Linked DNA regions of Homo sapiens. The protein of the gene in region 5 purifies or fractionates together with the protein of the main gene of each other region. This does not show direct contact. Each region holds a gene or a part of one and is shown on either strand. Other genes may lie near its edges.

Region 1 (2,622 bases), on a different chromosome or scaffold from region 5:
TTTTGCCTTGGTAACAGAGCCTTCTCAGGCAGGCTCTTAAGTCTCTCACCTTTTCCCCATTGAACCCATTGGACACGAAATCTATGCTGACTTCCTCTATTCCTTAATTCCCCACTTTATTACCTGTGATGTCCCCATCACTCAGCTGAAACTGCTCTCTTACAGGTGGCCTGTGACCCCCTGGCCAGGCCAGGACTTCTCACAGGTCTCATTCCCAGAGACCAGAGGTGTCCCTGTTGACTTGTTCCTGCTTCTGGGCTTCTGTATTGAACCAAGGCGCCTCCTGTCATCTTGGCTTGTTTCTCTCTGGTCTGGCCGAGTTGTCTAGTGTGTGTCCGTGTTTCTGCATTCCCTCCCTCTGTGTGTAGAGCCTTAACGTTGCCATTGGCTCCTCCCAACATCCAGTATGTCTTTGTTGTCGTCCTGTCTTCTTTTCACACCACCCTGCCCCTGCAGACCTGCTGGTCGGTCTCCAGGGCCCCAGCACGTCTTCCCTTCAGTTGGTCCCACTTATCTCCACTAGGCTAGTTTCTCATAAAATGCTCATCAACCTCATTTCTCCCTTCTCAGTAGCTGGCCCCGTTACAGCAATGCCATCACAGACCTAGCTCTAATGTAAAATGCTAGCTTTCATCCCGCCCACCTGTTTCTGAAATGTGCTAGTAGAATACCACAGCAGAGGCAAGCTTAGCTGTTAAAATCTTTGCCTGGTGAAAGTAGATACTGTATGCTTGTAAGGTTTATATTGTTACATTCATTTTCTCCAGATGTTTCTGTTCTAAAGGTGGGAACAGTATCATCATTATATAGACCGCCCTTTGTGAAATGTAGCTGTGGTGTCAGCTGTGGTGTCAGAATGGTCTTACATTTCTGTTTTAAGAAATGGTCTTTTTTTTTATTGGTTGTAGGAGGTGATTCTGAGTCGATGGGTTTCTTCACGAGAGAGGAGTGACCAAGACGATCTTTAACAATTCAACCTCAAATTTCTAATTTCACCAACAACTATTTATTGAGGGCTAGGTAAAAAGTTCTTTTTGTTGTAATCGTCCATTAATTCATAAGTTTTAAAGGGCATGGTGCTCCCAGCACCAGAAAACTATCAGTGTTTTTAAAGATAAATTACACAAGGGAGGAGAAAGATCCCTGTGCTAGGACTGCAGATTCTATACTTGCGTTGGCCTCTAACTCTCCAATCCAGAGCCTCCTGCCTCTGGCGTCAGTCTTTTCCCTCATCCACTCACTGGGGAGATTGGACTAGAGGAGTCCTGAGAGGACACTTCCAACAAGAGACATTTATTCTCTGATTTTACCTGAAAATGGTAGTAGTTTACATTTATACAGTACAGTTTATGAAGCACTTTCATACGCAGGCATCTCTTGTTACCTACATCTAAGCTGTTCCCGAAAGAGTGTTACAGAACACAACAGTATTGTACAATATTCGATAAGCATATCTTCACTGCACTTGTTATAAAAATGAGTGGTGAAATAATGTTTGGAGACATAATGAAAGCGATTAACATTTGGCAAAATATAATAAAGCCTTTTTGTAATTGGTGAGAAAGTCATGAAGACTTAAGTTGCCTCAGGGCATCTGGTGGCAAGAGGAGGGAGATGGGTGGCTGGGCATGGTGGCCCATACCTATAATCCCAGCACTTGGGAGGCCTTGGGAGGCCAAGGCGCATGGATCGCTTGAGCCCAGGAGTTGGAGACCAGCTTGGGCAACATGGTGAAACCTCCTCTCTACTAACAAAAATTATCCAAGCATTGTAGCACATGCCTGTAATTCCAGCTGCTCAGGAGACTAAGGTAGGAGGATCGCTTGAGCCCAGGAGGAAGAGGTTGCAGTGAGCGGAGATTGTGCCACTGCAATCCAGCCTGAGCAATAGAGCAAGGTCCTGTCTCAAAAAAAAAAAAAAAAAAAAAAAAAAATGTGGGTGGTGGGGAAATGGGAAGGGGGAATACTTGCTCTTCGGTGGTAGAATACTTAGGCTAAGGTGGTAGCCTGAGCTGTATCCTCTTAATGGGTCCAGACACTACTTGAATGATATTGCTGCAAACCCTTACATGTTTGTTATATTTAATTTGGATAGCCAATATGGGGTAAAATATTTTGCAAACCGTGATAGCAAACATTTGGAGAGTGGGAGTTGAGATGCGGCAGATGCCTGTGTATTTATCCCTGCAGCAGCCTTGTGAATTCAGGAGGAGGGACCCACAGAGGGGTGTTTGAAGCTCAGAGATGTTGGCGGGTGTGCATCACTACCAGTCATGCACGTGGAGGACTGGACCTGAGATCACTATCTCAGCTGAAATGGCGCTATCCTAAAAATTGCATGCAGTCAGAAATAGAGCCCTGTTTGGTGGTGGTGGTGGTTAACAAGGAAGGCCACCCACCACATCGGGCAGGGCCAGCTTTGTGCTCCCACACAGTCCTCTACCTCGGGTGGGGTGCAGCCTGAAGCCCCCTTACTTACTGGTTATGCCTGTGATTTTGCAAACAGTGTCAGAAAGATTCCATGACGACCACCTATGGATCCAAGGGTAAGAACCTTGGTGCAGTGTGTGGTACTTGGCTTTTAATTCCCCAGAGAGAATTCTGAAAACTGAGTAGTGAAATG
Region 2 (3,782 bases), on a different chromosome or scaffold from region 5:
TCATGCCTCAGCCTCCCGAGCAGCTAGGATTACAGGCATCCACCACCACGTCCAGCTAATTTTTGTATTTTTGGTAGAGACAGGGTTTCACCATGTTGGCCAGGCTGGTCTTGAACTCCTGACCTCAGGTGATCCACCCCCTCGGCCTCCCAATGTGCTGGGATTACAGGCGTGAGCCACTGTGCCCGGCCATAGCTTCTTAAAAGGATACGTTAAGGACCTTAAAAGGATATGGCCTCTTAAAAGGATATGTTTACACACCCTTGTAGCAAATAAGAAGCCATGTGAGGTTTTGAGCAAGAGAAAGATGGTTATTAGGAAAGCTAATCTGGCTCTGGTAGGAAGGATATACAGAGGAGACACCGAATCCAGGGCATCAGTGAGGAAGCTGTTGCTGTCCTCCAGGTTTAGAGCAGTGGCGGTGGGACTGGAATAGATGTGCCCAAGAGACATTCAGTGGAAACGAACCAAGATTTTCCAACCCCATGTCAAAAAGTGGGAAATAGAGAAGTCAAAAATGACTCTCAAGTAGTTTGTATGACCATTGTCAGAGAGGAGAATGATAGAATACTTGTCAGCAATTTGAAATGTCTTCTGCCAGTTGCCACATGTTACCCTGCAATGAGAAAAGCCACTTTCCTGAGAATGGATACTACCCAGTGGCCTCCTCATCTGGACACCACGAAGCTTCTCACTGGTGTTGTAAGTGGAAACCAGAGTAGCTGCCTATCTCCTTGATTATATTTTTTCTTAAAAATGTATAACTATCAGAACACAGAACAAACAGCTCCTAACCGCTTTGGTGTAGTGATCACACAATTTAGAATAAGACTTAGAAGACTTTCCTTTTTTTTTTTTTTCCAGAGACAGGGCCTCCTTCTGTTGCCCAGGCTGCAGTGCAGTGACATGATCATAGCTCACTGTAACCTCGAAGTCCTGAACTCAAGCAATCCTCCCACCTCAGCCTCCCAAGTGGCTAAAACTATAGGCATGCACCACCACACCAGTTCATTTTTTAAATTTTTTGTAGAGTTGGGGCTGTATTTCCCAGGCTGTTTTGAACTCCTGGCCTCAAGTGGTCCTCCCCACTGGGCCTACCAAAGTGCTAGGATTATAGGTGTGAGCCACCACACCCAGCCTCATTCATCTTTTATGGTTTGCTGTCTCTGTTCAATCAAAACCCAGCCTCCTCCCATCTCTGTGCTGACAGACCTGGAAGGAGAGGAGTATGGGGTATACAGCAGAGTAGAAAATGTCTCCAGGTGATTCTAGAGCAATCCATTGTCTCCTCCCAGCCCAAACACATGTGTACTGAGCACGGCGCACATCACTTATTAACTTACTCTGCACCTCCCTAGTAACAAGTCCATTGGTGAGACTTACACAGAGCCAAGGCAGGTGACTTGGCTTTGTGCCAGGATACCAAAATTTAAAGGGTGCAAGAAAGTATTAATACTGGTTTTAAAAGATTATGTGACTGTAAATTTTGTTAGATTTACACATTGACAGCCCAGCATTCCTTCAACTGTCTAGAAACAACTGAGCTTAGCACCTAGTTAACAAGAATAATTAGTTAAAACGGGAAGCTAGCAGATGGTGTACATTGTTAGTAACACCCCTCTGTGTGCCAAATCCGGAGCACAAAGTTGACCGAGGGCCCGTGTACTGCAACTTGCCCAAGGCATCAAAATTGCCAGTTCCGGGCAAACGGAAAGTCTGGTTTCAGGGTGGCTTTGTACTGAAAACCCTTGTTGGCAGATTCTGCTTGGCCATTCATTACTCTAGCACAGGCCTCACTATCTACTTATAACTTATTAAGGAGGTGAGATGTTGCCTTTCTTCGCCTTCTCAATTTAAATTTCAGTTTCTGCCTTGAATCTTTCATGCCTCCAGGTCAAAAGAGAGAGACAGAGACAGGGAAAATGACATCATAACCAAATATGGAATTGCTTTAAATTCAGGCTGGTATCTTCTCCCATCACGGCTCTCCTGGGCAACCAGTTTCCTGATGACCCCAACTCACTTTCAGAGGGCTCTTATGAATTAGCTCTGTGCTACAAAGTGGGAGACTGACCTCAGTTCTTCCACCACTAACTAGCTTTGTGCCCTGAAAACATCACTTCACCCCTCCCAAACACAGAATAAGCAGGCCTCCTGTTCTTACCTAGCCCCAGTGTGCCACTACTGAACTATAAGATCTTGAGAAAATTCTCTGAACCTATTTCATCATCTCCACCTTAAGGACACTGGAATAGATGATCTCAAAGGCCCCTCCAGGGTAACTTTCTACAGCTCTATTTAAGCCAGTTTTTCCATTCAGGTAAGTGTGGACAGATTGACTTTGAGATAATGGTAACTTATTCAAGGAGAACTGGACAGTAAGCACTTGGAGAAATGTGGGTGGAACTCAGTGTGAAAGGAAGAGGAGGGGTCTGGAAATAGATTTTGGGGTGAGACTTGAAATCATGAGAATGAAGGAGCTTCCCAAAGGGGAAGTGTAAAGAAAAGAGCGTCAGAGACAGCCTTGGAAGAATAGGAGGTGGGAAGAAAACACTGCAAAAGAAATAGGGCCAACTTCCTGGTGGGTCGCGCCTGTAACACTTTAGGATACTGAGGCAGGTGGATGGCTTGAGCCCAGGAGTTCCAGACCAGCCTGGGCAACATGGCAAGACCCTGTCTCTATAAAAAATACAAAAATTGCCCGGGTGTGGTGGCACGCACTTGTAGTCCCAACTACTTGGGGGGCTGAGCCAAGAGGATGGCTTGAACCCAGTAGGTCAAGGCTGCAGTGAGCTGAGAACATGCCACTGTGCTCCAGTCTGGATGACAGAGCAAGACTCCGTCTAAAAAAGAAAGAAGCCAACCTTAAATGGTTAGCGGCAGATCTTAGGGTAGTTTTCAAAAAAGATGTTTTAAGAAATAGAAGTTATTTTGACGATAGTTCCTAAGTAGGAAGATTTTGTTGTCATTGTTGTTGTTGTTTTTAATATAAAGATAAGGTCTCGCTGCATGGCCCAGGCTTCTCTCAAACTCCTCAGCTCAAGTGAGCCTCCCACCTTGGCCTCCCAAAGTGCCATGATTACAGGCATGAGCCACAGCTCCTTGCCCAGAAGGAAGTTTTTATCAACATGGGTAAATGCACCTCCCTTACTTACTGCAGCCCTGGTCCAGAACTTACCCCTCTCTCTAGGCTGTGAAGCTTCATGGAGGTATCGATATCCTAGTCTCCAATGCTGCTGTCAACCCTTTCTTTGGAAGCATAATGGATGTCACTGAGGAGGTGTGGGACAAGGTGAGAGGGGATTAAAGCAGGGGGGCCGGGGGGGGCGCCTTGGAACACATTCAGCACAAACTCCATCTGCTTTTAGAATGCATTTCTCAAGGGCAGTGTAAATGTGAGGACTCTTTGCCACGTGCCACACACCTGGAGCACACCTTGCAAAGGGCGGGTGGGGGTGGCTCTATCCCTGCCCTTCTCATTCGTTTCTGCTACTCCTAGTTCTCTCTGCTTCTATCTGCTCTTCACTAGCCACAGTCTGCTCCTCTCCCCAGGCTTTTTCCCTGGCATGCTCTTCTGCCTTGTTGATTTCCAACAGAGACGTAGGCAGCTAATATGCCAACAACTACAACACTTAATTTACACACCCACCTGTCCCCTTTTCAGCTGACAAAAAGTAATTATTTTTTACGAGTTGGGAAATATTAAATGCTGCTCCTTATTTAAAATACTAATTCTGGTGAAATGACCAGTTGCCACTTTATAACATACATCCTTTAAAAAA
Region 3 (4,427 bases), on a different chromosome or scaffold from region 5:
TCCCGACTTTACCACCTGGGGGCCGGAGGGGCTGCCTGGGCCCGCAAGAGCAAGCCTCTGGTGCACTGGGAAAGCTGAGAAACAAACACACCAGAATCCGAGTCTGAAAAGCCCAGAGCCCGGGTTGCCATGGCAACCTGCAGCCAGCTCCAGCCCGGGACTCCGCCAGCCTGGGTAGGGGCCGGGACTCGCCAGGCACGGCTGCTCCCAGCTCTGAGGCCTCCTCCTTGGGCTTGGCCCTGTTTCTGCTTGGACACAGAAGTGGTGCAAGGCCACAGAGAGGCACTTCTCCCCTGTCAGGTGGGCCAGGCAGGCCTGGGCTCCCCTGGGCTCCCACTGCCAGCTTTCTCCCAGAGTAAGGCCTGGCCCCTGGGCCTCCAGAGTCCAGCACCTCTCAGCACCCCACCCCGGCACCCATTGCTCCAGCACCCATCACTCCAGCAGCTGTCAAGCCCATCAGCTGCCTGGGTCACCACAGCACCAGTGTATGGACAGGCCTCAGGCGCCGGCCAGGTCAGCGGCCTTGAGGCTGTTATGTGGGCACCGATAGAGGGGCAGTGAGATGATTCCCTGCCTTACCTCACAGCTGGGGGGTGCCAGCACTAGTGTGAAGCTTTCTACGTGATTTTTCTCCTTTAATGGCACTCCTGACAGATGAGGAAACAAGCTCAGAGCAATTAAGCGACTTCCCAAGGTACAGAGCTGCTGCTTGGTAAGAAGCAGAGACTTGCAACTCCTGGGCCCAGGTTCCTGCCCTGGAGCCTGTTCCTGGATGCCCTGGGCTGAGCCCTGCACGTCAGCAGAGCCCATCACCCAACCACTCACCTGACCCCCCGGCCACAGGGCTGTGCCCAGTCTACACAGACACACAGCAGAAAGAGGATGGCCTTCAGGTTTCCATTTAATGGCCAAGCCAGCACTGCCAAGATGTCCTCCTGCCTGAGAAGCCCACCCACGCTGGCACCCCTCAGCCTCACTAGCGGCATCCCAGTCCAGTCCTGGTGTGGGGCCTCATCTCAGCTCCTTCAGCAAGCTGTTGACAGAGCCCAGCAGCTCCTGGAAGTAGCCCTCGTCCTCACCATCCTGCAGCTCCAGGCTGGCCAGCACCTGGTACTCAGCCTGCAGGCTGGCCAGTGTCCTGCCGAGCTGGGGGTCCTGACGGTAGCGGTCCCGGCAGGTGGTCAGGAGGACGCCCAGTGTCTGCAGCACCTTCTCACGGGCATCATGCTCGGGCAGCGCCAGGAGGTGGGCCGTGATCTCGCACCAGCCCTGTTCCCACAGGCCTGGCAGGAGGTGTACCTGGCGATACTGCTGCAGCTTCTCTGGGGACATCTCCTGGGTCAGCTCAGCCTCCTCCTCGGCGAACATCTGCCATCCGCCACAGCCGCAGGCCAGGTAGGGTGGGGGTGGGGAGAGAACACACAGGGAGCAGTTAGCTCACACCTGGCTAGCTCTGCCCTTCAGACAGGAAGGCACGAGGCTGACCCCTGAGGGCCCACCTCTTCCTCTATCCCCAAGTCTGTCTGTCTATTCATTCATTCATCCACCAACAGAAACACTTGTGTGGTGCCAGGTGCTGAAGAAACCACGATGGAGACATAGTCTTACCCTCAAGGAGCTTAAGGTCTAGCAGGAGAATAAAAATTAACTAATTCCCAAATAGCATAAATGTAATCTAACAGTGCAGCATGGAGGCAGACAGGCTGGCTTCAAATTCCTGCTCCACCACTGACTTGCTGAATGACCATGGCTGGCACTTAGCCTCCCTGAGACTCATCGTCATCACCTCCTAAGTGGAGAAACTCAGCCTGTCTGTAAAGCGCAGAAGCCCAGCTCTATCAGCAGAACATGGTGGGAGCCAATCCTGCCGGGCTACCAGCAGCGGGAAAGCCAACACCTGAACCATGACAAGCAGGCAGGTTACCTGAAGGTCAGAGGTAGAGGGTTGGGAGGGGGCAGAGATCTCCCGTGCAGCTGTAGGAAGTGTGCCTGTATGGAGAAAGAAGGAATGCCTGCCCTAACTCCAGGGGAGAATGAAGCACAGGGAAGATGCACAAGGCAAGAGGGAAGCCCAGGAGAAGAGGAGGCCACAGTGGACCACCTGTGCTTCCTGCGGCAGCAGGAAGTCGTGGGGCTGATTGGGGCTGGCAGAGGAAACTGAGGAGGGGTGCAATCCTGCATCCTGGGACAGGAGAGGCTGAGAGGTATCCCCTAGTCCTTTCCTACTTCACCCCTCAGTCCTGCCAGCTTCGCTTCCAAAACACACCCCAATTCTGTCAGCTCCACCTTTGTCCCTTGTGTCCTGCGATCCAGTGCCTCCTGCTCTCACCCTCTCCTCCAGCCCCCAAACCCTCACAGCCTGGCATTGCGGGTGATAAAGACAAAATCAATCCCTTCCCTGGGACTGCGAGGCTCTGCAGGCTCTGCCCCCACTGTGCGCGGCCTGGACCCACTCACACCCACTCCTGTCACTCTAACTCTCCCCTGGGGCCTCTGGAGGCGCAGCTCCGACTTCCAGGTGCACCCCCGCATTGGCCCCATTCACTCCACGGCTCCCTGCACACCTCACCGCCACTGACCGGCCTCCCCTGACTGGCCTTCTCTGCTTATATGCTGCTGTGGTTTGAGTGTGTTCCCTAAAAGTTCAAGTGTTGGAAGCTTAATTCCCAAGGCAGCAGTATTGAGAGGAGCTGCCTAGGTCAGGAGGGCAGCGGGTTCCTTACGGGAGAGCGGTTGTTATTCTAGAGAGCAAGCCCGGCCCAGCATGCTTTTTTCCGCAAGTGCTCTTGCCCTCTCACCTTCCACAATGTTGTCATGCAACACAAAGGCTCCCGCCAGATGCACCCACCCAATCGTGGATTTCCCAGCCTCCCGAATCATGAGCCAAAAACTGCCTTTTCTTTATATTATCCAGTCCCGGGTATTCTGTTAAAGCAGCAGCAGACAGACTACAACACAAGCTCAGGGGAATTCTCTGATAAACATCTGCCTGAAAGCTCAGGGACGACAGGGACTGCGGATTATTTTCCCAGCACCCGGCACAGCAGGCAGCACAGGCAGGCAGGGTCCCCCTGCGGCCCTTCAGCTCCTCAGATGCACCAGAGGCCATGGAATCCAAACCCCAGGCAGGCATCTCACCACTGCAGAAGCCCAGATGTCAGGGCATGGTCTCTCAGTAGAGGTCCTCTCACAGGCCAAGGTACATATGAGGACTGCCTGGGGCCTGGCAGACCCCAGCACCCTGATGGGGGTGTCACATTGCCCATGGGAATTCCACAGTCCTTGGCTGTCATGACAACATGCTGCAGTGATCCCCGAGCTGCATGGCACCCCTCCATCGTGGTGGACAGCTCATGTCCCTCCACCTTCAGGCAGCTCTGGACCCACCCCTAGCTTGGCTAGGTCTTCATTCTTAAGCGCTGCAAGAGGCTGGACTTAGTGACTCACGCCTATAATTCCAATACTTTGGGAAGCTGAGGCAGGACTGCTTGAGCCCAGGAGTTCAAGACCAGCCTGAGCAACATAGTGAGACCCTGTCTACAAAAAACGAACAAAATTAACCAGGCATGGTGGCATGGACCTGTAGTCCCAGCTACTCAGGGGGCTGAGGTGGGAGGATCACTTGAGTCTGGGAGGCAGAGTTTACAGTGAGCCAAGATCGTGCCACTGGGTGACAGAGAGAGACCCTGTCTCAAAAAAAAAAAAAAAAAAGAAAAAAGAAAAGAAAAGAAAAAAGAAAAAAGAAATCACAAGAACAGAGAAGCCCTGACTGCCTCAGCCCAAGTACAGTGTGTCCTAAATCTCTCTGGCTGAAATTTATCTGCTGTCCTCCCTGAAAGAAGAGGGCCATTTCTGTACTGTTTGTAGAGAGATGCCAGTCCTCCCCTCCCCAATCATGTCAGCACCCCAAAGCTTCCAGAGGCAGGCTCCCGGGGCCGGCAGCCTCGGGGCAGCCTTGGTGAGCCTGCCTGGTGGTAGTGTGCTAGCAATGTGTCAGTGCCATAGTGCCCAGGATGCCAGGGCTGGGGGCAGCAGGGACACACACCCAAGACACCAGAGAACAGAGCCCAGTTTCCCTGGGAAATGCCCAGCCAGCTGACATGTCCTTCTCCAGGCTCACTGGCCCAGTCCCAGAACCTGAACTGTGCCCAGGCCTTATCAATTGGATCTGAGCACCACATGGCTGCCTGCTGTTCTAAGAAACTGGATTTCTGCAGCTTTAACAAGAGAAGAGAGAGAAACAGGCAAAGACAGAGAGTTGGGGAGAGACAGTGATGGACAGAGGTGGCCACAGCCATCCCGACACTGCCTGGGAGAGAAGGCCTGGGGGAGGCGTGTGCAGAGGGAGTGAGGGGCCCAGCCTCCACCATTCGGCAGCAGTTCCAGCGGCTGCCCAGCCCTGCTCCACTAGTCGGCATGCGGCTCTT
Region 4 (3,782 bases), on a different chromosome or scaffold from region 5:
ATAGAAATTATAGATACTTTTCTATCGCATTTCAGTTGTAGATAGCTCAAAGTGCCATTTACATTCATTGCAACTTCAAAATATCTGCTGTTAGACATTTACCTACCTCTAGATCCATTTAAGGGTTTAATTTAAAAAGCATATTATATCATAGATTTTTAAATAGCTTGGTAGCAGTATTTAATTGGTTTCCTGTGTAATCCTATATATTTTATTTTACTCATTTAAAAACATGATGCTGAGAAGGAATGAAGGCTTTACCAGACTGCCAAAGGGATGTATGGCACAAAGGTTTAAGGAATTATGCTTGAATTTCATTGTCTACATAGATGACATTTATTGAGCTGACTGTGCGCTTGGCATTATTTTAAGCATTCTCATAGTCCCACTGTGGAGCAGGCAGTACCCCATCCTACAGATTACAACACTGGGGCACAGAAAAGTGAAATAATTAGTCCAAGGTTTCAGGTAAATAGTAGAGCTATGAATGAACTCAGGCTACCTGTCCACAAAGCATGAACTTTTTTTTTTTTTTATACTTTAAGTTCTAGGGTACATGTGCACAACGTGCAGGTTTGTTACATATGTATACATGTGCCATGTTGGTCTGCTGCACCCATTAACTCGTCATTTACATTAGGTATATCTCCTAATGCTATCCCTCCCCCCTCCCCCTACCCCACAAGAGGCCCCGGTGTGTGATGTTCCCCTTCCTGTATCCAAGTGTTCTCATTGTTCAATTCCCACCTATAAGTGAGAACATGTGGTGTTTGGTTTTCTGTCCTTCCAATAGTTTGCTAAGAATGACGGTTTCCAGCTTCATCCATGTCCCTACAAAGGACATGAACTCATCCTTTTTTATGGCTGCATAGTATTCCATGGTGTATATGTGCCACGTTTTCTTAATCCAGTCTATCATTGACGGACATTTGGGTTGGTTCCAAGTCTTTGCTATTGTGAATAGAAAGCATGAACTCTTAACCAACAGTCATTAGCATGAAATCAATCTCAGTGTCTTTCATTCAGGAAACAGCAGTACCCATCCAGAGTAGAATGAGACCAGGGGCTGCTAGCTATTATCTGGCCTCATGGCAGGTAGCAGTAAGGGTGTACCATGCTACGGTGCCAATATGCCCCTAAGCAAAGTGGGAACACAGTGTTACTATCAGGAGTTTCTTTGTGCCATACTTCTCTGCTTTTGAAATTTACATACAACTGCTGGGGCTTTATCTCCTATGTGCAAGTGATATACAAGCCAGGGCTTTATCTTTTATGTATAGCCTTGTAAAAACCCTTTGGAATTCACCCCTTGGGCTCTGGCAATACTTGCACTAAGTAACTAAGAATCTGTGCTTAGGCCTGTAAACCTAGGGAAAATTTGCTCCACTGGCAGAGAAGCTAGAAGACTGTGGGGAGCTGGGGCAAACTGTATTTGGAATCAGGAGACCTGGCTGAGGCGACAGGTTCAGCACTAATTATTCATTAATTATATTATTCAATATTTATATTATTCTGTTGAACTAACTAGTTAACCTCTCTAACCTCAGTATTTACAGTTATAATGTAAAAGGGAAGATATCTATGAAGACTGGATGAAGGCATAAAAGTAAAAGAGCTTTCTTTCCAAATATCAGTAAATGTACGTTTTGGTTTAATATAAAGAAATTTGGCAGGGCTCAGTAGCTCATACCCATAATCCCAGTGCTTTGGGAAGTTGATGCGGTAGGATCACTTATGGCTAGAAGTTTGAGATCAGCCTGGGCAACACAGCAAGACCCCCATCTCTACAAAAAAATTTTTTTGTTTTTTTTTTTTTGAGACAGAGTCTCGCTCTGTTGCCAGGCTGGAGTGCAATGGCTCACTGCAACCTCCGCCTCCCGGGTTCAAGTGATTCTCCTGCCTCAGCCTCCTGAGTAGCTGGGATTACAGGCATGTGCCACCGTGCCTGGCTAATTTTGTATTTTTAGTAGAGATGGGGTTTCACCATGTTGGTCAGGCTGGTCTTGAACTCCCGACCTCAGGTATCCACCCGCCTCAGCCTCCCAAAGTGCTGGGATTATAGTAATGAGCCACCGTGCCCGGCCATGTTTTTTTAATTAGCCAGGTGTAGTGGTGCATGCCTATAGTCCTCACTGCTTAGGAGGCTGAGGTGGGAGGATTGCTTGAGCCCAGGTGTTCTGGGTTACAATGAGCTATGATTGTGCTGCTGCACTCCAGCCTGGGTGACAGAGCAAGAACCTGCCTTGAAGAAAAAAGAAAAAAAGAAAGAAAATATTTTTTAAAAGATAGATTAAAAAAATAAATAAAGAAGTTTTTACACTTTTGACACACTGACTGACCAGCACACAAGAGTTACATAATAAATGATTTAAAGGATGGTGGTTTAAAAAAAAAAAAAAGGGAAAAAGGCTGCTCTTTCAGAAGTAGAAACAGACCACATAGCTTCTTGTGGGAATTGTCATAAAAGGTGCGAGGCAGCAAGCAGAACATTCACATGGGTACTCTGGGGGTTCCTGCCCACGCTTAGGTCTCTGATGCACTCAAGCCTCATGATTCATCCATGGCTGTGTACCTTGACACCAGGAACTGGCCTGGGAATATTTGTATACTGTTATTTTCCCCTTTATTGCTCAACTAGGGAGGGGTGGAAAAGGAGGGTGTGGAATCCCAGTTACAGTTCAGAAGAAGAAAGACAACTTTGATGGCATTTATCCCTCTGGGACATCCTTATACTAAAAATTGAAGTGGGCAACCTGGGGAGAGAAATAACTTGATTGCCAAAGTACCATCTCTAAATATTGAATAATCAAACAGTAGGCATCAGATTAAAGCAAAAATCAAACATAAAGCCTCTGTTCCTTCAACTTCCTCTGAAGAGCCTTTCCTTATGGGGAGGTGGGAACATGCTTTTTTTCTTTTTTTTTTGAGGGAGTCTTTCTCTGTTGTCCAGGCTGGAGTCCAGTGGCTCAATCTTGGCTCACTGCAACCTCTACCTCTGGGGTTCAAGCAATTCTCCTGACTCAGCCTCCCAAGTAGCTGGGATTACAGGGATGCACCACCACACCTGGCTAATTTTTGTATTTTTATTAGAGACGGGGTTTCACCATGTTGGCCAGGCTGGTCTTGAACCCCTGACCTCTAGTGATCTGCCCGCCTCAGCCTCCCAAAGTGCTGGGATTACAGACGTGAGCCACTGTGTCCGGCCAAACATGCTCCTTTTTAAAACAGACTCAAAGGGTCACCAAATTCTGACAGAAGGCACTCGAACATATGATAAAATACAGGGTACCCAGTGATATTTTAATTTGAGATAAACAATGAATGATATTTTAGTATAATTATGTCCCAAATTCCACGCTTAATGCTAAAAGTATGGTATAAGTATTTCATGCTTATACTAAAAAAAAAAAAAAAAATCCATGTGAAATTCAAAGTTAACTGGGTAGCCTACATTTTTCTTTGCTAAATCCAGCCACCCACCACCTACCCCAACATTCTCACGTCAGCCCATTTGGGGCTCCACATATCCAATAAAGTTACCATTTTATAAAGTCACTGCCCATTAAAGTGCATCACAGTCACGTAAAGAAAAGGTGCATCAAATTGTAAAGTAGGCCGAGGGTGGTGGCTCATGTGTATAATCCTACCACTTTGGGAGGCTGAGGCAGGAGCATCACTTGAGGCTGGGAGTTTGAGATTAGCCTGGGCAACAAAGTGAGACCCTGTCTCTGCAAGAAATAAAAATACTAGCTGGGCATGGTAGCATGCATCTGTAGTCCCAG
Region 5 (3,782 bases):
ACTTTGGGAGGCCAAGGCGGGTGGATCACTTCAGGTCAGGAGTTCGAGATCAGCCTGACCAACATGGAGAAACCCCATCTCTACTAAATACAAAAAATTAGCAGGGTGTGGTGTTGGACACCTGTAATCTCAGCTACTTGGGAGGCTGAGGCAGGAGAATCGCTTGAACCCAGGAGGAGGAGGTTGCAGTGAGCCGAGATTGCACCAATGCACTCCAGCCTGGGCAACAAGAGCAAAACTCTTTCTCAAAAAAAAAAAAAGAAAGAAAGAAAGCACACTGGACTCCGAGTCAGGAGTCCTGGGGCTTGTCAGAGAAGACCCTTAACCACTCTGGCCCTCAGTCCTCCCATTCACAGCATGAGAAAATCATCAGTGTCTTCATGAGAGGGATGTTAGGATGTATGAACCTTAGCGTCCTGGTTAAATCCAGAAAGGTCCTTAAAGATCCTATAACCTAGTGGTTTTCCAACTCTGCTTTCATTTCTGTGACATACCCCTGTGGGGAGGAGACTGAGGAGATGGCCCTGGGGTACCCTCAACCCATCCCTGTGCCAACCTCAGCAGCTCTCTTTAAAAAAACCTATTATATATATTGAGGTTTAGCCGAAGCATTCATTTGTTGAGGGGCAGGGGACACGTTTCTTTGCTAAAAATGGCTTGAAATCCACCAATCAACTCCAGACCCCACCATTTGCAAAAACTGAGGACTGGAAGGAAGAAGTGGCTCGCCAAGGCCAAGATGCTGTTTAACAGCAGATCCAGTCTGCACACTCACACACACACCTCTTCAGGTCCCATGCACATAAGCAAACTCACTCACTTATCCTCTGTGTGCGTATATGAGCCCATACGCAGTACACTGAGTATTGGAAGGAAAGAAGGAAGGCGGAAGGGAAGGAAGGCAGAGACTGTCTTTCTCCACCTCCCTCTAAGGTGGTCTCTTCCAAGGCAGGCCTCTCCAAGGAGGTCTGGAAGGCCATTTTCCCTGGCCTCCTATCACAAAGGACCTTGCAGTTAGGTTTTTGGCTTGATCTCCCGTTAAGGATATAACATTGTCAGAGATACATTGCAAGGGTTAAAAAGAGAAGGCATTAATTGCAAAACTTTAAGCTTGAGTCTTGTTGGCTGAACCCCACTTCACTTGTAATTGGTGAACTATGAATTAACATTGTGTAAGTTCTGTAATTTTCTGGAAAACAGAACAGTCATCTTGCATATAAATTAAGGGGGTAGTTAAAGCATTGGTATTCTAAAACAAACATTTCTAAAAGCCTCAATTTTTGTGACCCTGATTTAAAAAAAAAAATTTATTTTCTAATCACCCAGAAGCCTAGAAATGATCTAGAAATCTTTCATACTGTGAGAAGCCCTGTCCCAAGGAGGCTCCCAGCACTGGCGGGAGTTTTTCTATATCCCTTCATTGCCTTTGTCACCGAAAGCATATGCCAGGGACTGGGCACCAATTTGCCCAGGGCTTCCAGCAAAAGCAGTGAGGCACTGTGGCTGTGACCTGTGCTGGGCGGGGCGGGGTTTCCTTGGCTCAGTGCCAGGGCAGCCCTGGTCTTCATTGTCAGGGGTGAGAGGAACAGGCAGGTTACTCACAGCTCCACCCAGCAGGCTGGCTGTGCGCGCCTTCTCATCCACAGTAAACACAGGCCTTCCTCATCCCCATGTGCAGCACCAGACCCTTTGGGAACTTATCTTTTCACTAGTCCTCTGACCCGTTTACATTCCAAACCTCTGGGCCTAGCCAAGCTGCTCCCAGAGCCAACAGGAGGTTCCCCAGGAAATGCTCCCAGGAGCAAGTTATGTGGGGAAGCTGAGCCTGCTCTCCTCCCCTTCCCTCAGCCCCAGGGCTGAATCAGAACCATTCCAAGTGCAGGGATGCTTCTCTCTTAAGGAAATAGCATTCATTTCTAAGGCTTTTCTCATGGGGTGATGCCCCTTCCTGCCGGAGCTTTGCCATGAGGCAGGATGAAAAGTTCTGACAGCTGACAGCACAGCCATTCTCTCTGGCAGTGCTCCGTGATGTCCTAGGTCTCTGAAACCAGAATCTGTGTGACAGACTGAGGGTACCTGGACTCCATGGGTAGTCATAGTCCCTCCTACAAAGCCTCAGACCCACACTCTATGCTCCTGCCTTCTAGAAACTTCTGTCCAATCATAAGATTCCTTAGGATGGGTCCATGTGTGTGTTTTTAAATTTTTCTTATGCTTTCACAAGTGCACTTCTCCACCCACAGCTTTCTACTGGGCTCTGCTCATTGCTCAATCAGTGAAGGTTTGTTGACCACCTACAACAGCCAACTGCATGCAGTTCTGCTCTCCACCATCAGTTCTGGAAAAGCTGCTGCTTCACGGAAGAGAAAGGCAATTGCTTTGCCCAACCCAACATTCACTCTCCACATTAAAGAACGTTTCCTAAGAGAATCTTAATTTTTTTTTCTTTTTTCACTTTAAACAAAAATGAGATGGGGGTCTCACTGTATTGCTCAGGCTGGTCTTGAACTCCTAAGCTCAAGCAATCCTCCCACCTCGGCCTTTCAAATTGCTGAGATTACAGGTGTGAGCCACTGCACCCAGCCTCTAAGAGAGTTTTAAATTCTAATTTCAATTCCAACTATTGTGGATCTGGGCTTGACTCCTGGCTCTGACTCTCCAACCCGGGCTCCTCATCTGTGTGAGGATCAAATGAGATCATGCATTTGAAGGCATGTTATAAAGTGCAAAATCTCTGCAAGTGGCAGAGGCTTACTTACTCATTTATTTGTTTATAAACAGCAGATTCTCTAGAGAGACTCCTTGATTTTTTTTTTTTTTTTTTTTTTTTTTTTTTGGTGATACAGGGTCTCCCTTTGTTGACCAGGCTAGAGTGCAGTAGTGCAATCACAGCTCACTGCAGCCTTAACCTCCCTGGGCTCAGGTGATCCTTCCATCTCAGCGTCCTGAGCAGCTAGTACTATAGGCATGTGCTACCACAGCTGGCTAATTTTTGTCTTTTTTGTAGAGATGGGGTTTTACCATGTTGCCCAGGCTGGTCTCCAACCCCTGAGCTCAAGTGATCTGTCCTCCTCAGTCTCCCAAAGTGCTGGGATTACAGGCATGAGCCACAGCGCCCCAAGGACTCCTTGATTTTTAAAGTGAGATAGCCCCCTTCCCTATCTCTCTCATTAATTTAATGTTAAAACCCAGGAGTGGTGGAATGTTTCTGCTCAGGGCAGGGTTGGGTGGAAGTCCTGATGGGTTGGTCAAGTCATTAGGAGCAGCTATTTAAGGCTAATTGGCTTTGTATGGAGAGGTTGAGGTTGGGCTGGGAATGAGGTTGGGTTTGTCTCCCAGGGCTAGGCAGGGCTAGCAGCAGGGTTACGCCGCACTCTGAACTGGCATTCTTCTTACTTGTCAGATCTCCTGTCTAATTGGTCACCCCTAAGCCTCCATGCCTTGACCCAGAGCTACCCTGCAGTGGAGAATGGGGCTGCTTCTGACCTAGCGCTGTGCCGGTGAATGTCGGAACACCCCTCTCTCTTTTTTCCCTTCTTTCTGTTCTCAACCTAGGTGTCTGAAAGCCATCCTGCTCTCTGTATCTCTTCCTGTAGTCCAGAAGGGTGTTGGAAGCAGGGAGAATCAAGCAGTCTTTGCCAATTTATGAGCAGAGTTAGTAGAGGAGTGAGCCTGAGGCCCTTTCAAGGCCCCCATTAGGGCTGATGTGGTCCTGAGATAACAAAGGAGCCTTATGGGGGCATGATGACTTCAAGATGCCCCTTTCTAGGAAGGTGAAACGA
Region 6 (3,782 bases), on a different chromosome or scaffold from region 5:
TGAAACAGTAACAGGATAGTTTATTAGCTTATAAGTAGGATAAAGTCAAATCTCAGACTTGATATTTAAGACCTTTGAGAACTACCAAGTTTTCCAATACTATTATACCATACATTTTTCACTGCAAAATACACATGAAACTAAGAACAAACAAACAACAGAACTCTAGTAAGATGCAGACACCCTGGGCAAAAGGTCCACTTCTTAATTAAGTAACTTCCTACTGCAAACTGTTCAAGACTCACACTTGTCACAGGTCCTCCAATGTTGCTTAAACATGAGCAAAATTGTGAATGTTAAACCCTAGAATACCATATCTGATAATTCTCAATTATTTGTATAATCACTTTTAATGCATGATGGTTTCCCAGCTTACCCTCCATGCATTTTGTAAAAAAATAAGCGTCTTAAAAATTCTGCTATATTTCGTTATTTGTTTCCATGGGGTTTGTTGAATGGGAGTAATGTTAGAGGAAACCTGGGCCTAGGAGGAGTTGAATAAATTAAGATTTTTGAGGGCCCTGGAAATATTATAAACTCTTCTCAATCTTTTCTCTAATTCACAGACATAAGCATTTGGTCCAAAGAATTTTAGAGGTTCACATTTGTCACTAACAATTCTTAGTATCCCAAAAACAATAGTTTTCCAAGACTCCAATCTCCCCAAGTATGGAACAGGTACTTTAAGATGCACCCACATCACTAACATGGAAGAAAGTACTGCATACTGGACAAAGAAGAAATAAGGATAGAAAAACCATGGCCACTCTCCTTTATTTCTGTGGTACCTGCTGAGAGCTGTAGGCCTTGGTTTATAGCCAAGTGAGGTGTGTCACTTGCAGGCAGTTCTGTGTAGATCTTCATCCTCCCTGTGTCCACGTGGAGGCCATCAGTGAGGGAGAACTGGAACTCATCCACGACCATGCCAGGGACACTAGGCACATACCCAACCAGCCCAGCTAGGATATCCTGGTAGGTGAAGGTTGAGCCCTGGACTAAAACTCTCCCATTCTCCAGAGGCTCAGAAGCAGTTTGCCTCCAGAGTACATGACCTGAGGGAAGAGGTAAAGAAAAGCAAAACAATGGTAGAATACACATATATATATGATTCAAAACATTGTCTGATTTTTCCAAGTAGTATGAGTCTGGGTAGAATGTCAAGTGCCTCAGAGGCTCTTGGTGCCAACAGCTTAGCATTTTACATATAACCACAGGGTGCTGCTCTGTGGCCTCATACACAAATAAAGAAGACAAAGTCCCACTTATCCTAGCTAAAAAGTCTCTTAAGGAGACACAGATGGATGTGGTAATACAGTGACTTACAAATCATATCTCCCTCCATGAATTTAAACTCACTTCATTATCTAAATCTTATTTTTCCCTTTTGCAAAGTGAAAATAGCACTCACTGTCTTTCTCTTAGGGCATCTAGAGGCAGAGATGAGAATATGCTTTAAATTCCTTTTCAATTAAGAGAGACACTAAGCATCTTTAGATTGAAGCATATATTTCTGTTCTCAAGGGTCATGTACCGCAGTGGGACAGTCAAAGTGCTTCATTCAAGAAAGCGAAAGTGAATGGAAGCCAGCTAAAATACAATGCCCAACAGTTTTTTCTATTAACCCTTCATCTACTGCAACAATTTAATCTTTAAAAGACCAATGAGCATTACGATGAATTGAGACACACCACTTGCATTCCAGAACTTTAGCCAATAACTGGAGAGATGGCTCTTAAAAAAAAGAAGTAGGTAGAAGGTCCCAAAAGTGGCTTCTGCATCTGGTTTAAATGAGGAAAAGTGTTTTTTTTTTTTTTTTACAAAAGGAACAAGTTCATAAAGACATCTAGTATGCCTCTACAAGGGTACATAAAATGGCTCAAGATTATTAAACACTGATGTCTACCCTGAGAAGACAATATGGGAACTCTGAGAAGAGAATAGGCAAATTCTGAAAACTTTTTTGCTTAAGGTTACATAGAAAAGCAAAAAAACGGCTGAAATTTAACTTCAGAGACACCAATTAACTGGGATTGAGGCTTCTTAAACAACTGATGTCTACCAGGACTCCAAAAAAATATTAGCCAGCTGTGAATTTGATTACACTTTGATGCAAAGAATGTACCATATACAAGAAAAGAAATAGTCAACTGAAATATTTGTGTTTATTCTAACAGCCCATCGGGCATCTCAATTAAGAAGCTTTTCATAGCAGTTCGTGCCCTACCGTGGTCAGGCTTTTTTGTCAATACAAAAATGAGCTCATTATCTGGGGTGTCCAGGTCTTGCAGGCTCAAAGAAGAATTGCTTATCACCACTCCCGAGCTCAGCTGCACTCTGAGGGGCTGCAAGGTCATCCTGGGAGGCTCATCGTTCTTCCTCTGATTAAAGCATAAACTATTAGATCTCACACAGATATTTAAGAAGAAAGAAAATGCACATTATTCAGAGACAGTATCATTGCTACAGAAATGTTCACCTCAAAATAGCATTTAATGTGGCACCATCTTTACTTCCCAAGCAAAATAGTTAGTTTGAAAAGAGAGCAAGTCCAGGCAACAAAATGCCCCCTTCAAAAGAAGCTGATGGACATTTCATAAAAGTTTTCTCAGATATCTTCCGTAAGTACAATGACCATATTTTCTAGACCAAAAATATGGATATGTGCTTTGACAAGTACAAGTATTAACATACTTTGAAGATAAAAGACCATACTAATATAACTCAGAACTCTCTTAGAAAATGCTAAGCATACCACAGTACCTGTAGAAGGACACTATATTTGAAAGTGTGGGTCTCTAAAGCTGTCTCCCTGCCCTGGTGCCAGCCCCTTTCCACCACTGACCCTTAAGAGTGCAGAGGGTTCTTTACATTTTATTTTCCCAAGGCAGAGGGTATTTCATTCTGAGATTTATCTTTCCCCTCCCCTGTGTCTCTCTCTCGGTAGAGCAAGCCTGTGTAGTTGCTCAAATGAGAATAAATACAGCATCAAGGAACACATTTCTTTGATGTTACAATTAAATAAATAAATGCAGTAAAATAAGAAAAGGCAAATATGCATATAGAACCAAACACAATTTCAGAGAAACATAGACATATGTAAGTTTTCATTTATATATGAGACTGGCAAAGCATCTCTGACCTTCACAAACTGTTTTTCACACCGAACAAATAAATTCAATCCTGAAATGGAAATTTAGATTTCTAACTCAAGCCTTCCCCAAATGCCAACCTTAATTCTACAAGATTCCTGAAGGCTATATTTTAAGAACGACCTTCAATTTTGAAGGTCAAATCCAATCTTCTTTGCTTTTGAGTCCCTATAAAGAAAGCTCTCTAATGGTGTGAAATATTGTGGTCAAGGGCTCAACCTTTCCAACTTCCAAAGTCTTTACCTCAATGGTGATATTGATGCTGTGAATTTCTGAACGACTGGTTCCATCACTCACATAAAAACTAAAAATATCATGGGTTGGCTCAATGCTTTCATGAACACTCTGAAAGTAGTAAATGTAGTTTTCCAGGACGTCTTGAATAGGAAATGATGCCTCTAGGTCACTGGCAGTTTCAGGGCCAAAACGATCACCTGCATCAACATCAAGAGAGCATTTTTACCTTGATCTATCAATTCCTGCTTACTAGGCTGAACTAGAAAACAAGGTATCATTTTCGGCAAAAAAAAAGAAAATGTATTTGAGGATAAAGTTGGGAGAGTGGGATAAGCACAAGACCAGGAATTGGAAGGCCTGGGTCAGATCCGTTTCCTCACTGACTATTTCTCATCT

What was found.
Region 1: the proteins of PRELP (region 5) and TSEN2 purify together in Homo sapiens (affinity purification with mass spectrometry, with the first as the bait; one large-scale study listed by BioGRID). This does not show direct contact.
Region 2: the proteins of PRELP (region 5) and DHRS4 purify together in Homo sapiens (affinity purification with mass spectrometry; 3 studies listed by BioGRID and IntAct, with this or other methods). This does not show direct contact.
Region 3: the proteins of PRELP (region 5) and SIL1 purify together in Homo sapiens (affinity purification with mass spectrometry; one large-scale study listed by BioGRID and IntAct). This does not show direct contact.
Region 4: the proteins of PRELP (region 5) and PON2 purify together in Homo sapiens (affinity purification with mass spectrometry; one large-scale study listed by BioGRID and IntAct). This does not show direct contact.
Region 6: the proteins of PRELP (region 5) and FRAS1 purify together in Homo sapiens (affinity purification with mass spectrometry; one large-scale study listed by BioGRID and IntAct). This does not show direct contact.

The regions. Positions count from the first base shown.
Region 1 is NC_000003.12:12,531,754-12,534,375, forward strand, and holds the end of TSEN2 (tRNA-splicing endonuclease subunit Sen2), read left to right. Parts: intron 1-908; coding exon 909-968; 3' UTR 969-1,905; downstream 1,906-2,622.
Region 2 is NC_000014.9:23,956,712-23,960,493, forward strand, and holds part of DHRS4 (dehydrogenase/reductase SDR family member 4), read left to right. Parts: intron 1-3,190; coding exon 3,191-3,292; intron 3,293-3,782. UniProt on the Homo sapiens protein: NADPH-dependent oxidoreductase which catalyzes the reduction of a variety of compounds bearing carbonyl groups including ketosteroids, alpha-dicarbonyl compounds, aldehydes, aromatic ketones and quinones.
Region 3 is NC_000005.10:138,946,106-138,950,532, forward strand, and holds the end of SIL1 (nucleotide exchange factor SIL1 precursor), read right to left. Parts: intron 1,369-4,427; coding exon 1,012-1,368; 3' UTR 619-1,011; downstream 1-618.
Region 4 is NC_000007.14:95,428,515-95,432,296, forward strand, and holds part of PON2 (serum paraoxonase/arylesterase 2), read right to left. Parts: intron 1-3,782. UniProt on the Homo sapiens protein: Capable of hydrolyzing lactones and a number of aromatic carboxylic acid esters. Has antioxidant activity. Is not associated with high density lipoprotein.
Region 5 is NC_000001.11:203,478,761-203,482,542, reverse strand, and holds part of PRELP (prolargin precursor), read right to left. Parts: intron 1-3,782. UniProt on the Homo sapiens protein: May anchor basement membranes to the underlying connective tissue.
Region 6 is NC_000004.12:78,445,323-78,449,104, reverse strand, and holds part of FRAS1 (extracellular matrix organizing protein FRAS1 isoform 1 precursor), read right to left. Parts: intron 3,584-3,782; coding exon 3,393-3,583; coding exon of another isoform or gene 3,318-3,392; exon of another isoform or gene 2,472-3,317; intron 2,379-2,471; coding exon 2,225-2,378; intron 1,053-2,224; coding exon 789-1,052; intron 1-788. UniProt on the Homo sapiens protein: Involved in extracellular matrix organization. Required for the regulation of epidermal-basement membrane adhesion responsible for proper organogenesis during embryonic development. Involved in brain organization and function.